Linked DNA regions of Homo sapiens: region 1 is linked to region 2. Evidence: fine-mapped expression QTL. Tissue or cell type: whole blood. Region 2 holds a variant in brackets; the other region holds the start of a gene. All regions are shown on one strand. Distances are between the middles of the regions.

Region 1 (8,000 bases), 49 kb after region 2:
GGGTGAGGACCCTAAGGGGAGCTCTCATGGGGGCTGGAGTTGGGTAAATAGGGAGTGAGTGTTTCATGGGGACACGGTTTCAGTTTGGGAAGATGAGAAAGTTCCGGAGACGGATGGTGGTAATGGTTGCACAACAGTGTGAATGTGTTTCATGCTCCTGAATGGTGCACTTAGAAATGGCTACGATGGTAAATTTTATGTTATGTATATTTTGCCACAATGAAAACAAAATAAAGCGTGATCTAGGAATCATGTTTTCAAAGCAGCGCTTCTCAACCACGGTGACTCTTTCGGCGACTAGTGGCCAGAGATGCTTCTAAACATCCAACAATGCACAGGACAGCATCCCAGCGAGGAATCATCAGTCCCAAAGTCAACAGTGCAGGGTGGGAGAGACCCAGCTTTGAACACACCTCCTCCTGGAAGCCCCCCTGGATTTGACACACCTACTGCCCTTCCTCCCCACCCCTGCACCCTTTCCTTCTCCCCTTCGTAACCCCAGGAGAGGTTAAACAGGTAGGAAAGCCCAGGGCTGTGTCGGGATGGGGTTAGAGTCAGGGTCGCCAGGCTCCATCTCGTTGGGACACAGCGCCAGGCCCTGTCCCAGGTGTGGGGGTTCTGTGATTAGAGCCGCGGACGTGCCTCCGTCCTGTGCAGAGCAGAGGTTAGGGCTGGGATCAGAGCATCGTGGGGTGAGGGGATCAAGTTGTAGTTGAGCTGGGGTTACGGTCAGGGCCGGGGCTGGGATGAGAGCTCAGCTGGAGATGGTTGAGGGTTGTTGTTGCTGGACACCCTAAACTCCTTCCTGTTGAATTCTGACCTAGGTCAAACGAGGAGCGAGACGCGGCCTCCCCCAACATGCAGAGGATCCCAAATCTGAAAGAAGAACCGACACCCACAGATCTGGGGCCCACATCCGCACAATTTTCTGTTTTTCCCCCGAAGTGAGCAAGAGGCGTATTAATACCGCAGAGGGGAAGCGGGTGGGGCAGTCCCGTGACTGGGTCCTTGGGGCCCCAAAGCATCCTAGTGTTTGAGCTGAGTCTTGGCAGGAACCCAGCAGGCAGGGGGCTTTCACCCCTGGGAAGGACATGATGGGGCCGGTGGGGTTGGGCTGGGGCACCTGGGCTTGTAGAACTCAGAAACACCAAATTCCAGCTGGGCACAGTGACTCATGCCTGTAATCCCAGCACTTTGGGAGGCTGAGGCAGGAGGATCACTTGAGCCCAGGAGTTTGAGACCAGCCTGGGCAACATAGTGAGACCCCATCGCTACCAAAAATTTAAAAAATTAACCAGGCGTGGTGGTGCGTGCCTGTGGTCCCAGCTACTCAGGAGGAGAAAGTAGGAGGATCTCTTGAACCTCAGGAGGTTGAGGCTGCAGTGAGCCGAGATCGCACCACTGCACTCCAGCCTGGGAGACAGAGCGAGACCCTGTCTCTAAAAAAAAATATGGACAATTTTGTTGTATAGTTTAATTTAGTAGCAATGGTTGCTGGGCACAGGAATTTGTTTGTTTGTTTGTTTTTTGGGATCGCCCAGGCTGGAGTGCAATGGCGCAATCTCAGCTCACTGCAACTTCCGCCTCCCAGGTTCAAGCAATTCTCCTGCCTCAGCCTCCCGAGTAGCTGGGATTACAGGCACCTGGAACCACTTCTGGCTAATTTTTGCACTTTTCGGTAGAGACGGGGTTTCACTGTGTTGGCCAGGCTGGTCTCAAACTCCTGACCTCAGGTGATCTACTCGCCTCAGCCTCCCAAAGTGTTGGGATGACAGGTATGAGCCACCACGCCCAGCCGGACACAGTTCTTAGTGACTTGTGTGCATATTAACACATCTAATTTTCACCACCACCCTAGGAATTAGATGCTTTGGTGATCAATGCTGCCTTATGTGAAGCACAGAGAGGTTAGGTGACTTGCCAAAGGTCACACAGCACTTCAATGGAAGAACCAGGAATTTGAACACAGGTAGTGTGGGTCAGGCATCTGCAGCCCTAGCCACTATGCCACCTAGACTTCTATATACTAAGACCCCTTGGCACTTTGCCCACCCTCCTCATCCTTCCCAAAATGTGTCCCCTGATCCTTAACACCCTCCCCACTCTCAACTGGGGAACTCCAAATCCCCACTCCTGGGTGGGCTACCTCCCATGTCTCTCACTCCAGAAGACACCCCCCTGTGCCCCTACAACCCACCTCCCAACCAGGAGGGGGCTGGGCTGGGCCATCCACTAGGGCTGGACGTTCCCACTGTGTCAGGGAGGGGCCTGGCTGAAATGTCCCCTGGACCCTGCACTCCAGAACAGCTGGGACCATGCTGCCTTGTCTGTCACCCTGGACCGAGTGACCCTTGGTGCATGCCTGTTGAGTGAATGACTGACTCTGGTGGTCTGAGGCTGTTCATTTTGGGTCCCAAAATGTCCCCTCCACCTTGATCTGGGGTAATGGCCGAGGACCAAGATGGTAAAGAAGTGAGGGAGGGTCCGGGTGCGGTGGCTCATGCCTGTAATCCCAACACTTCGGGAAGCCGACGTGGGTGGATCACTTGAGACCAGGAGTTCAAGACCAGCCTGGTCAACTTGGTGAAACCCCATCTCTACTACAAATACAAAAAATTAGCCAGGTGTAGTGGCGCGTGCCTGTAATCCCAGGTACTTGGGAGGCTGAGGCAGGAGAATCACTTGAATCCGGGGAGGCAGAGGTTATGGGGAGCTGAGATCATGCCACTGTACTCCAGCCTGGATGACACAGCAAGACTCTGTCTCAAAAAAAGAAAAAAAATCAAAAAGGAAGGGAAAGAGTTGGCCGCTGAGCATTGGAGAGGTGGCTGGGGGCTGCTGAGTGGACATAGGGACAGCATTTGAGGCCAAGCCAGGGTGGGGTCACTGGGGGATTAGTCTTGAGGGCAGGTCGGGTTGGGGATCCTAAGGGGGGGTCTGCCGTGGTGGCCAGGTGGGAGTGAGGACCCTGGAGGGTCTGTTTTGGGGGGCAAGACAGGAGGTAGAGCCCCAGGGAAGGCTGTCATGGGGGCAGGATGAGAGTGGGGAGGCCATGGAGGAGGCAGTCCCAGGGACAAGGCAAACCAGGCAGGGGGAACCCTAAGAGGGGGATGTCACCTGGTCCAGGGGGAAGAGGGAGCAGCTGTGGGGATGGGGAGAAGCAGGTTATTTTTTTGAGACGAGCCAGGCGCGGGTGCTGGGTGAGCGGTGGGGTGGAAGATCGGGAAGTGCTTGGACAAGGCCTGGACCTGGGCCGGGGTGTCTGGGTGGATGGACGGACTGTCCCACCAATGGGGACACACGAGGAGAAGGAGGAGGAAGCTTGGGAATAAGTCCAGCTGGGCCATGTTGTGAGGACATGGGGATGAAGTCTTAGTTCCAGGATGGGGCTGGGATGGAGTTTGGTGTTTCTTTTCTGTTTTTCTTTCTTTTTTCTTTTCTTTTTTTTTTTTGTGAGACAGAGTTTAGCTTTTGTTGCCCAGGCTGGAATGCAATGGCGCGATCTCGGCTCACCGCAACCTCTGCCTCCCGGATTCAAGCGATTCTCCTGCCTCAGCCTCCCGAGTAGCTAGGATTACAGGTGCCCACCACCATGCCCAGCTAATTTTTTTTTTTTTTTTTTTTTTTTTGTATTTTCAGTAGATACAGGGTTTCACCATGTTGGCCTTGAACTCCTGACCTCAGATGATCCACCTGCCTCGGCCTCCCAAAGTGCTGGGATTACAGGCGTGAGCCACTGTGCCCGGTCTCTCTCTCTCTCTTTCTCTCTCTCTTTCTTTCTTTCATCTCACTGTGTTGCCCAGGCTGATCTTGAACTCCTGGGCTCAAGTGATCCACTCACCTCTGCCTCCCCAGTAGCTGGGATCACAGGCATGCACCACCATGCCCTGCTAGTTTTTATAGTTTTTGTAGAGACAACGGCTTGCTATGTTGTCCAGGCTGGTCTTGAACTCCCAGGCTTAAGTGATCCTCCCACCTCAGCCTCCCAAAGTGCTGGGATTACAGGCGTGAGCCACCGTGCCCAGCCAAAACTGTCCATATTTGACCTGAATATTATCTCACGTATCTTTCTTTCCCCCCGCTTCCCTCCTTCCCTCCTACTCCTCCTTCTCCCTCTCCTTCCTTCTGTCTTTTTTTTCCCCTTCCTCTGCCTCTCTCTCCTCTTCCCTTTTTTCTTGCTGGGACTCAAACCTGGGACATTTGACCTGGGAGCCTATTTGCTCAATCATCAAGAGACATAATCTCATGGTGGGGTGTCTGCTGGTAAGTGCCGGGTGGCAGGATCCCAACTCCAGGCCGTCCTTCTAACCCAAGAGGCCCTGCCTCTGCCTAGAGCCTTCCGTGGCTCCCCAGGGCCCTCTGTGATCGGCCATAGTGGTATGATTCAGTGTGCAGTAACAGTGGTTCACATCTTGACGCTACCACTCACCTCCTTCAGCCCTGTGGGAACTTGCTGCTTAACATCTCTAGTTCTCACCCAATTCTCTTACCTGAGAAATGGAGATAATAATAACACGGACTTCACCCGGGTGTGGGGAGCACCAGGAGAGGCCATGCGTGTAATGTTATCCGGGTGGCAAGCCCATATTTAGGTCTATGAAAATAGAAGCTGTCAGTGGCTCTACTTTCAGAAGAAAGTGTCTCTCTTCCTGCTTAAACCTCTGTCTCTGACGGTCCCTGCCAATCGCTCTGGTCGACCCCAACACACTAGGAGGACAGACACAGGCTCCAAACTCCACTAAGTGAGTACGTATCTGGTGTGTTGGGGGTTGGCCATGGGAAGTGGAGATCAAAGCGCCCTTGGAAGAAACGACCTTGGGCTGAGCCTCAAGGGATGACCAGCAGGAGGTCACAACCAGAGAAGGGAGGTGGTGGGTGGTGAGGGGGCGGGGGTGGGGGCCGCAGTGTGGACAGAATCTCGAGGCATTCGAGTCCCTGATTTGGGGAAGTGAAAGCAGGCCATCTGGTCTGAGATGAGCTTGGTGAGTGCGCTGGGCCGATCATAGAGGGCCCTGGGGAGCCATGGAAGACTCTAGGCAGAGGCAGGACCTCTTGGGTTAGAAGGACGGCCTGGAGTTGGGATCCTGCCACCCAGCACTTACCAGTAGACACCCCACCATGAGATTATGTCTCCAGATGATTGAGCAAATGGGCTCCCAGCTCAAGGGTCCCGGGTTTGAGTTCCAGTCCCACCACTGCGTGATGGGGACAAATGACTTACCCTCTTGGAACCTCAGTTCCACTGAGAGAGGCCCCACAGAATGAGGACAGTCCCCCAGCATCCTGCCAGTAGGTTTACTGAGCACCTACTGTGTGCTGGTGCTTTGAATACTCCCAATTTACAGATGAGCAAACTGAGCTGCTCATCCAGGAAGAAGCCAGGACTCGGACTCAGGTCTGTCCAGCTGCCTCCCTGGACAGTTCCAGTCCCAGGATGGTCTCTGGGTTCCTCTCACAATGTCAAAAGGGCCAGCTTGAGCTGCCGCTAATCAGAGCCTGGCCGCGCCACACCCCACCTCCCTGAGGCTCCGAGAGAAGGGACTTACCTATAGTCAAGCAGCGAAAGAAGGTAGCCCGTGACCTCCAGGCCTGAAGGACCCCAAGTCCCATGCTCCTCAGCACATAGTAGATGCTTTAAAGTCAGAGGACTTGGTCGGGCGCAGTGGCTCACGCCTGTAATCCTAGCACTTTGGGAGGCTGAGGAGGGCAGATCACCTGTGGTCAGGAGTTCGAGACCAGCCTGATCAATATGGTGAAACCCTGTCTCTACTAAAATACAAAAATTAGCCAGGTGTGGTGGTGGGTGCCTGTAGTCCCAGCTACTTGGGAGGCTAAGACAGGAGAATCGCTTGAACCCGGGAGGTGGAGGTTGCAGTGAGCCAAGATGGTGCCATTGCACTCTAGCCTGGGTGACAGAGCGAGACTCCATCTCAAAAAATAAAAAAATAGGCCATGCACAGTGGCTCACGCCTGTAATCCCAGCACTTTGGGAGGCCGAGGCGGGCGGATCATGAGGTCAGGAGTTTGAGACTAGCCTGGCCAACATAGTGAAAACCCGTCTCTACTAAAAATACAAAAATTATCTGGTCATGGTGGCACGTGCCTATAGTCCCAGCTACTCGGGAGGCTGAGGCGGGAGAATCGCTTGAACCCAGGAGGTGGAGGTGGCAGTGAGCCGAGATCGTGCCCCTGCACTCCAGCCTGGGCAACAGAGCGAGACTCCATTTCAATAAATAAATAAATAAATAAATAAAGTCAGAGCACTTTACAGATGCCCTGGGGACATTGGCAGAGGAGAAGGCTGAGGCCTGGGTTATGGGCTCTTAGCATTTCTCAGTGGGACGTGGCACAGAGTAGATGTTTCATAAATGTTTAGAATCCGAAGACCCACTGTGCGCAGCCCGGCACCAAAAACCTCAGGTATGCTGTGATCTCATTGGATCCTATCTTGGCCTCATGAGTTGGGTGCTGTCATCAGCCCATTTTACAGAGGGGAAAACTGAGGCTGAGAATGGTTGAATCCTTGGCTGAGGTCACACAGGCAAGGCAATTATAATAAACGCTGGTGATATTTTTAGCACAGATCACCAACCAACAGTATAGGTGTTCTTGGTATCATCATTTTACGAATGAGGAAAGAAGTTTCCAGGTTAATTAAGCCATTTGTCAAGATCTCATGGGTGCACCTGCTGTGTAGCTCAAGTGTGATGGGCTCTGGAGTGCCCCACTTCTGATCTCAGGCTGCTATCTCTCCACACCAGCTGTGTCTCCCTGCTAACCACGCTAGTGAGTCCAGATTGTAGACTAAACAAAATCAGCAAATGGCCCCTGAGTGCCACCAAGTCCCAGATGCTATCCTGTGCTGGTAACTAGGATTTGATGGCTCACCCTAACCATCATTAAATCCCAAATCAGCCAGAGCTGTGATTGTGCCCGCTGAGTGGACTGCGTTGTCAGGGAGTGAGTGCTCCATCATCGGGAGAATCCAAGCAGGACCGCCATGGAGGAAGGTCAATATTCAGGTAGGAGGACTCTCTGGTTCTAACGTTGGCAGAAGCAATGACCCTTAGCTACTGCCTTTCACCCAGAAGAGAAGCGGGGCTCCCCAGTCCCTCTCTGGGAAAGAGGGTGAATTTCTAAGAAAGGGACTGGTGTGAGTAAGGAGGTGAGGCCGGACTGACTTTCCTGGCACAGAGCCAGGAAGGAGTGGCAAATTGAGGGCCCCTCCTTTTTCTGATTCAACACCCTCCTGACAAAAAAAGAAAAAGAAAAAAAAAAAAAAACGGCTTCAGCTAGGGAGCGGGGAGCCCAATAGAGTCAGAGGCCAAATAGAACAGGAACTTGGAACAAGCAGAATTTAGCATAATGAATCCTCCAAGCCAGGGTGAGTGCAGAGGGCCAGGGGCTTGAGGTGGGACATCCAGATAGACCTTTGGGTGGGGTCTGGGAGAGGTTTGGAGGTCTGGATGTTGGATGACACCTGGGAAAGTGGCTGGGGAGTGGCTCCGATGTTGGGGAAGAACTGGGACTCAGTGTCCTGGGTTTAGGGAAGGGACTCCAGGTTGGGGACAGGTGCAGAGGTGTAAGGGTGGGCGTTGGGGCTCAGAGGGGAAGGAAAAAGCAGGACCTAGTCTTCTGGAAGTGAAGCTGGGGGCCTGGCATTGGTTGTTGGGGCTGAGGGAGTCTTAGCTCTTAGTCCCAGATCTGTCTCTGTGGTCAGTGACCCAGCCCTGAGTCAGGTAAGGAAGCTGTGCAAATGGAGCTGGGGGTCCACTGAGACCCTTTGCTTCAGTGTGGGCTCTGGACAAGCTCCCAGGCTGTCGGGGGCTCTGGGTAATGGAGAGACGGACAGGGCCAGCATCCAGCTTCACCCTGCACCCATAGTCAGTCCCTCCACCCCCGGCAGAGATCGAGGAGCTTCCCAGGAGGCGGTGTTGCAGGCGTGGGACTCAGATCGTGCTGCTGGGGCTGGTGACCGCCGCTCTGTGGGCTGGGCTGCT
Region 2 (8,259 bases):
AATGTTACCACTACAGAAAACAACCAAACCACAACGACAAACAATAAGAGAGAAAGAAAGGAACAAAAGATATGCAAACCAACCAGGAAACAATTAACAAAAGGAAAGGAATAAGTCCTCAGACATTAGTAATAACCTGTAATGTAAATGGATTAAATTTCCCACTTAAAAGATATAGACTGGCTGAATGAATTTTTTAAAAAGACCCAACTATATGCTGTCTATAAGAAACTCACTTCACCTGTAAAGACACGTATATATACTCAGGAGGAGGCTGAAGAAGGATGATTGCTTGAGGTCAGGAGTTTGAGACCTGTCTGGGCCACATGGTAAGACTGCATCTCTAAAAAAATTTTTGTAAAGCTAGCCAGGTATGATAGCATGTGTCTATAGTCCAAACTACTCAAGGAGCTGAGGCAGGAGGATTGCTTGAGCCCAGGGTTTTGAGGGTGCAATGAGCTGATTGTGTCTGGGAATAGCCACTGCACTCCAGCCTAGGCAACAGAGTGAGACCCCATCTCTTAAAAAAAAAAACACATATAGACTAAAAGTGAAAGGATGATAAAAGAAATTCTAACAAATGGAAACAAAAAGTGAGCAGGAGTAGCTACACTGATATCAGATAAAACAGACTTTAAGTCAAAGACAGTAAAAATAGGCAAAGAAGGTCATTATATAATGATAAAGGGATTGATTCAGCAAGAGGATATAACAATTTTAAATATATGTGTACCCAACACCAAAGCCCCAGATATATAAAGGAAATCTTATTAGATCTACAGGGAGAGATAGACTTCAATACAATAATAGTTTGGGGCTTCAACACCCCACTCTCAGCACGAGACAGATAATCTAGACAGAAAAATCAACAAAGAAACATCAGATTTAAACTACAATTTAGCCCAAATGGACCTAACAGATATTTGCAGAATATTTCATCCAACAGCTGCAGCACACACATTCTTCTCATCAGCACATGGAACATACTCCAGAATAGATCACATGTTGGGCCACAACACATTTTTTACAAAATCAGAATTATATCAAATATCTTCTCAGACCACAATGGAGTAAAACTACAAATTAATAACAAGAGGAACTCTGAAAACTGTACAAATACATGGAAATTAAACCATATGCTCCTGAACAACCACTGGGTCAATGAAGACCTTAAGAAAGAAATAAAAAAAATTCTTGAAACAAATCAAAATGGACACAGAGCATACCAAAATCTGTGGGATACAATAAAAGCAACACTAAAAGGAAAGTTTAAAGCAATAAATGCCTACATCAGGGCCGGGTGCGGTGGCTCATGCCAGTAATCCCAGCACCTTGGGAGGCCAAGGTGAGAGGCTTGCTTGAGCCCAGGAGTTCAAGACCAGCCTAGGCAACATAGTGAGATGCCGTCTTAAAAACAAAAAAACACACAAAATGCCTACATCAAAAAAGTAGAAAGATTTCAAATAAACAACCTAGGAATACACCTCAAGGAACTAGGAATGTAAAACCAAACCAAACCCAAAATTAGATGGAAGGAAATAACACAAACCAGAACAGAACTAAATGAAATAAAGACTAAAAACAAAAACAAAAACAAAAACAGAGGATCAGCAAAAGGAAATTTTTTTAAAAGATAATCAAAATTGATAAACCACTATCTAGACTAACCAAGAAAAAAAGAGATAAGGCCCAAATAAACAAAATCAGAACTGAAAAGGAGAGATTACGATTGAAACCACAGAAATACACAGAAAAAAAATCATCAGAGACTATTATGAACAACTATATGCTAACCAAATTAGAAGACCTAGAGGAAATGGATAAATTCCTGGACAACCTACCAAGATTGAAACAGGAAGAAATAGAAAACCTGAAACAGAACAATAATGAGTAATGAGATTGAATCAAAGTAAAATGCCTCCCAACAAAGAAATGCCCAGGGCTGGATGACTTCACTGCTAAATTCTACCAAACTTACAAAGAACTAACATAAATTCTCAAACTAATCCAAAAAATTGAAGAGGAAGGAATTCTTCCTAACTCATTCTACCAGGCCCACATTACGCCAAGACTAAAACTAGACAATTACACCATAAAACAGAAAACAGTCCTTGCTTTCAATTGTTTTGAGTATACACCCAGAAGTGGGATTGCTGGATTATATGTAATGAAATTTTTATTTCTATTTTTTAGGAACTGCCATACTGTTTTCTGTGGTGACCGCACCATTTTACATTCCCACCAACAATGCACAAGAGTTCCAGTTTCTCCACATCTTTGCCATTATTTGTTATGTTATTATATTATTATTATTATTATTGTTTTTGAGATGGAATCTCACTCTGTCGCCCAGGCTGGAGTGCAGTGGCATGATCTTGGCTCACTGCAAGCTCTGCCTCCTGGGTTCACACTATTCTCCTGCCTCAGCCTCCCGAGTAGCTGGGACTACAGGCACCCGCCACCACACCCGGCTAATTTTTTTGTATTTTTAGTAGAGACGGGGTTTCACCGTGTTAGCCAGGATGGTCTCGATCTCCTGACCTCATGATCTGCCCGCCTCGGCCCCCAGAGTGCTGGGATTACAGACGTGAGCCACTGTGCCCGGCCACGTTATTATTTTTTGTAGTAGTCATCCTAGTGGGTGTTAGGTGGTATCTCATTGTGGTTTTAATTTGCATTTCCTGAATGATTAGTGATGTCGAGCATCTTTTCACGTGCTCGTTGGCCACTTGTATATCTTCTTTGGAAAAATGTTTAGTCAAGTCCTTTGCCCATTTTTAATTGGGTTGTTTTTCCATTGTTGATCTGTACTTTTGCTCATCTTTAAACTAGGTTTGTTGTTTTCTTACTGTTGGGTTTTAGGAGTTCTTTACTTACTTTGAATATGAGTCTCTTTTTTCTTTTGAGATTGGGTCTTGCTCTGTTTCCCAGGCTGAAGCTCACTGGCACTATCATAGCTCACTGCAGCCTTGACCTCCTGAGCTTAAGCAATCTCCCACCTCAGCTGCCCAAGTAGCTGGGACTACAGGTGTGCACCACCACGCTTGGCTAAATTTTTAAATTATTTGTAGAGACAAGATCTCACGGTGCTGCCCAGGCTGGATGATTTCTTTATATATGTCTTGCAAATATTTTTGCAAGTTTGTGGATTTTCTTTTCATTTGTCTTGATTTCAATGGGAATGCTTCTAAAGTTTCTCCAGTAGAAATGGTGTTTGCTGTGGGTTTGATGGATACCACAACCATGTTAAGGATATTTCCTTCTACTCTTAGTTGATGAAGACTTAAAAATGTAAATCATGAGTCACTGTTGAGTTTTATTGAACCCTTTTATTTGATCTACTGTGATATGTAGGTTTTCTACTTTAAATTGTTTATTTGATTTATTATTATTATTATTATTTGAGATGGAGTCTCACTCTGTAGCCCAAATTGGAGTGCAATGGCACAATCTCGGCTCACTGCAACCTCTGCCTTTCGGGTTTAAGCGATTCTCCTGCCTCAGCCTCCCAAGTAGCTGGGATTATAGGCATGTGCCACCGTGTTGGCTAATTTTGTGTTTTTAGTAGAGATAGGGTTTCACCATGTTAGCTAGGCTGGTCTTGAACTCCTGACCTTAGGTGATCCATTCACCTCAGCCTCCTAAAGCGCTGGGATTACAGATGTGAGCCACAGTGCCCGGATGGTATGCTATTATTAATAGATTTTCTGATGCCATCCATGTGTTTGTCAAAAAAACTTTATTTGATCATAATGTTGTATAGGGAGAAACATGACAAACAGTACCTCAGCTAAGTTATCAAGCTTGGCTGATGATAAGTAATAAGTAATATCCATGATAAGTAATATCATATGATAAACAAAAACAAAAAAACTAAAACTGTAAACAAAACATACATTTCAAGATGAAATAAAATAAACGGCTGATGGAAAAATAAAATGACATTAGAGGAGGAAGGACCAAGAAAAGGGGTAATAAGAATGTAGTTGGGCTGGGCGCAGTGGCTCACGCCTGTAATCCCAGCACTTTGGGAGGCCGAGGCCGGTGGATCACCAGGTCAGGAGATCGAGACCATCCTGGCTAACACGGTGAAACCCCGTCTCTACTGAAAATACAAAAAATTAGCCAGGCGTGGTGGCAGGCGCCTGTAGTCCTAGTTACTGGGGAGGCTGAGGCAGGAGAATGGTGTGAACCCGGGAGGCGGAGCTTGCAGTGAGCCGAGATCGCGCCACTGCACTCCAGCCTGGGCGACAGAGCAAGACTCCGCCTCAAAAAAAGAAAAAAAAAAAAGAACGTAGTTGGTCAGATGTGCTACAGGGGACTTTGAATTGACTATCTAGCCAAAAGTCTTATTTCCTGGCTCACACAATACTGTGGAGGCGGGGGCAGAGGGGACACTCACCTGTCCCCAGGAGCCAAAATGGCACTGACTGGTCTCCAACTTAGGGCCTGGGTGAAGGTCTTCTCCACCAAGGCCAGGTGCCCAGGTTTCCCAGCTTGGGCCAGCTCAGCTGTCACAGGGGACCAGTAGCCTATTGGCCTGCTGGTCAGAGTGGCTGGTCCCACATCACATGGCACTACAGCCGAATGTTCATCTGCTCAGCTCCATTGCCTGCTAGGGAAGATGATGGTTCTTCAAAGAGTCCTTGGTTAGTGTTACAGCTCTGCAGCTTTGATTACCGTAGTGCTGATGGCTGTCTTGCTGTCTCTCGTCAACTGCTGCCTCTCCGTCTCACCAATCATCATCCTGCTGACCGCTGATCACCATCTGATATCGTTTGGGTGTGTCCCTACCCAAATCTCACCTTGAATCGTAGCTCCCATAATTCCCTCGTGTTGTGGGAGGAACCCAGTGGGAGATAATTGAATCATGGGTGCAGTTTCCTCCACACTGTTTTCGTGGTAGTGAGTCAGTCTCATGAGACCCGATGGTTTTATAAGGGGAAACCCCTTTTGCTTGGCTGTCTCATTCGCTCT[G/T]GTCTGCTGCCATGTAAGACTTACCTTTTGCCTTCCACCTGATTGTGAGGCCTCCCTAGCCATGTGGAACCGCCCATTAAACCTCTTTTTCTTTCTTTCTTTCTTTTCTTTTCTTTTCTTTTTTTTTTTTTTTTCACAATCCAGAGGTCTTTTATTTTTTTAACACCTCTGATGCCATGAATTCATAGGGAAGAGTTTCCAGCAGCTCAGCCTCCTTCCCATTGGTTCTCACAAAGCATGCTTCTCTGGGTGGAGCAGGCTGGTGCTTCAGTTGAACCCAGGTACCTTTCTCTTTGGCTTCTTTCTGTTTCTGATTATTTTCCTTCACACATTTCAGGAAGCTATCTCAGCTCTTAGCATGCTTAATGCGCTCAATGCACACATTAATTCTCTCGGCATGAATCTTGCCCTTGTTTGTTTACAACAATGCCAACAGCATGCTGGGTAACATTGTAGACTCTTCCAGTTTTGCCACGGTAACCCTTGTGGTCCATTCCTTTTTGAACAGTACCCATTCCCTTGATGTCTACAATATCACCTTTCTTACAAATTCGCATATACGTGGCCAAAGGAACAACTCCATGCTTTCTAAAAGGCCTAGAGAACATATATTGGGTGCCTCTCCTCTTCCCCTTTGCGTTCATCATTTTGGCAAATTACTGGAAGATGGCAGTTACGGCCAAAAGGCACCTCTTTTTCTTACAAATTGCCCAGTTTCAGGTACGTCTTCATCAAGCAGCGTGAAAACAGACTAATATACCACCTCTCTGTCTTTCTTTCTTTGCCACCACTCCACCACTCTCTGATCACCACCTCTCTGTCTCACTGACCTATCACCGACGGGCGCCTCTTGCCACCTTACCAGTTGCCGTCTTGCTGTCTTGCCATCCCTTGCTGTTTCACCTCTCTGCCAATCACCAATTGCCACTGTCTCTGCTGTCTTACTAATTCTTCAGTGATCCCCACTGTCTCACTGTCTCACTGGCGATCACCATCGGCAGATCGGCAGTGCTGCACCAGTCACTGCCGCTTGCTCACTGTCTTTGTTCCTTCAAGGTCACCAAATGTTGCAGGACAGGTGAACCCCAAAATTGGGGCTTAGCTGGGGAGGGTTCTTGGCTTCGCTCTGGAAAGAATTCAAGGGTGAGCCAGTGATGTCAGACAGAGATTTTTTTTTTTTTTGAGACAGAGTTTCACTCTTGTTGCCCAGGCTGGAAGGCAATGGCACGATCTTAGCTCACCGCAACCTCTGCCTCCCAGGTTCAAGCGATTCTCCTGCCTCAGCCTCCTGAGTAGCTGGGATTATGGGCATCAGCCACCATGCCTGGCTAATTTTGTATTTTTAGTAGAGACAGGGTTTCTCCATGTTGGTCAGACTGGTCTTGAACTCCCAACCTCAGGTGATCTGCCTGCCTTGGCCTCCCAAAGTGCTGGGATTACAAGCGTGAGCCACCTTTTGTTTGTTTGTTTGTTTGTTTTTGACATGGAGTCTCACTCTGTCGCCCAGGCTGGAGTGCAGTATTGCAGTCTCGGCTCACTGCAACCTCTGCCTTCCAGGTTCAAGTGATTCTCCTGCCTCAGCCTCCCGAGTAGCTGGGATTACAGGCATCAGCCACCATGCCTGGCTAATTTTGTATTTTTAGTAGAGACAGGGTTTTACCATGTTGCTCAGGCTGGTCTCGAACTCCTGACCTCAGGTGATCTGCCCGCCTCAGCCTCCCAAAGTGCTGGGATTACAGGCGTGAGCCACCGGTTTTGTTTGTTTGTTTTTGAGATGGAGTCTCACTCTCTCGCCCAAGCTGGAGTGCATTGTCACAGTCTCAGCTCACTGCAACCTCTGCCTCCCAGGTTCAAGCAATTCTTCCGCCTCAGCCCCCTGAGTAGTTGGGACTACAGACACGTGCCATGCCTGGCTAATTTTTTTTGTATTTTTAAAAGAGATGGGGTTTCACCATGTAGCCAGGAGGGTCTCGAACTCCTGACCCTGTGATCCGCCCACCTCAGCCTCCCAAAGTGTTAGGATTACAGGCGTGAGCCACCATACCTGGCCTTAGACAGATATTTTTTATGTAATGATACTGCTCCTTGTGAAGCAGGGCTAACTCATAGGCAGTGCACCCAGAGTCAACAACATACAAGCTCTTGGCAGCTGTAGTTATACTCATGTCAACTCACTTTCAGTTATACGTCAGTTAAGGGGTGGGTCAATGCAAATTGAGGAGCAGGTTCTTTAGAAGTTTTAAGGAAAAGGGCGAAGATGTCCAGGTTGTTTCCATGGAAACAGGTGGGAACTTCTAGGTCATTGCCATGGCATCGGTAAACAGTCATGGCACTGGAGGGAGTATCTTATGCCCACGAGCAATGAGGCAGCCAGGGATTGCTTTTGTTGCCATCTGCTGGTTCCTGCTGGTTTCTTCACATCATCTCATCTGGACCAGATTCTGTATGGGTCTGCAGGGTTGTGGCCAGAAAACAAGTTCTTCCAGTTTCCTACCTCATTACCATGTGAAATGTTACCATTAGGAGAAACTGGGTTCACATTAGGGATCCCTAGGTGAGGGATTTACATATGGGAAATCTCTTTCCTACATTTGCAACTTTGCTATAAACCCAAAATTATTCTAAAATTAAAACATTTTAAAAAAGAATACAAAGTAAAGATCAGGTCGAAAACCACTATTTGATTATGATACATGTATGTATTTTCCATCTTTAAACTGAGATTTAACACACATGTGGTAAATGCACATCTCTATGATCAAAATATAGAACATTTCCAGCATACAGAAACCCCGTTGTCAATCTCCACCTGCTCCTTCCTGATAATTCCCATTCTGAGTCTCCTTCAAAGGTTAGTTCTGCCTGTTCTCAAAATTCACACAAAATCAAATCTTACAGTGTGTACTCACTCTGTCTGGGTCCTTTTACTGTTTTGTGAGATTTATCTATGTTATTAAATGTACTAGTACTTTGCTTTTTCATTGCTGTATAGTATTCCAATCTTTGAATATGCCATTATATTTTTTATCATTCACCTGCTGGTGGACACGGGGTTGTTCCAATTTCAGATCATTCTAAATAAAGCTGCTATGGATCTTTTCTTTCCTCTTTGATACTATTTCACTCTTTGGTTAACAGCATGCACTGTGGAGGCAGACTGGGTTCAAGTCTCAGCCCCACCATCTACCAGCTGTGTGACCTTGGGCCAGTTAGCTAAACTTGCAGTGCCTCCTCAGTTTCCTCATCTGTATAATGGAGGTCATATGATCTACTGAAGGGTAG

What was found. PIP is the estimated chance that this variant, and not a neighbour inherited with it, causes the effect.
Region 1: FCER2 starts here. The variant in region 2 is fine-mapped to the expression of FCER2 in whole blood (TOPMed, PIP above 0.99).

Annotation. Positions count from the first base shown.
Region 1 is chr19:7,698,761-7,706,760 of GRCh38, reverse strand. FCER2 (Fc epsilon receptor II) reads left to right here and starts at 4,630. Exons shown (of 11, transcript NM_001220500.2): 1 at 4,630-4,746; 2 at 6,916-7,022; 3 at 7,907-8,000. The coding sequence starts at 7,001. It overlaps LOC105372262 (a long non-coding RNA gene), which reads left to right. Exons shown (of 5, transcript XR_936296.2): 2 at 267-516; 3 at 825-944; 4 at 1,859-1,969; 5 at 3,640-3,681. RefSeq lists enhancers at 1,196-1,265, 4,634-4,743, 6,847-6,916.
Region 2 is chr19:7,748,049-7,756,307 of GRCh38, reverse strand. It overlaps the pseudogene RPL21P129. Among named protein-coding and RNA genes, the nearest start is that of CD209, 4.6 kb to the right of the region's middle. RefSeq lists a silencer at 7,131-7,425, an enhancer at 7,205-7,706, a cis regulatory region at 7,926 and promoters at 7,142-8,259, 7,522-8,259, 7,142-8,259, 7,689-8,259, 7,756-8,259 and 1 more. The variant G/T (reference allele first, on the strand shown) is at 4,978.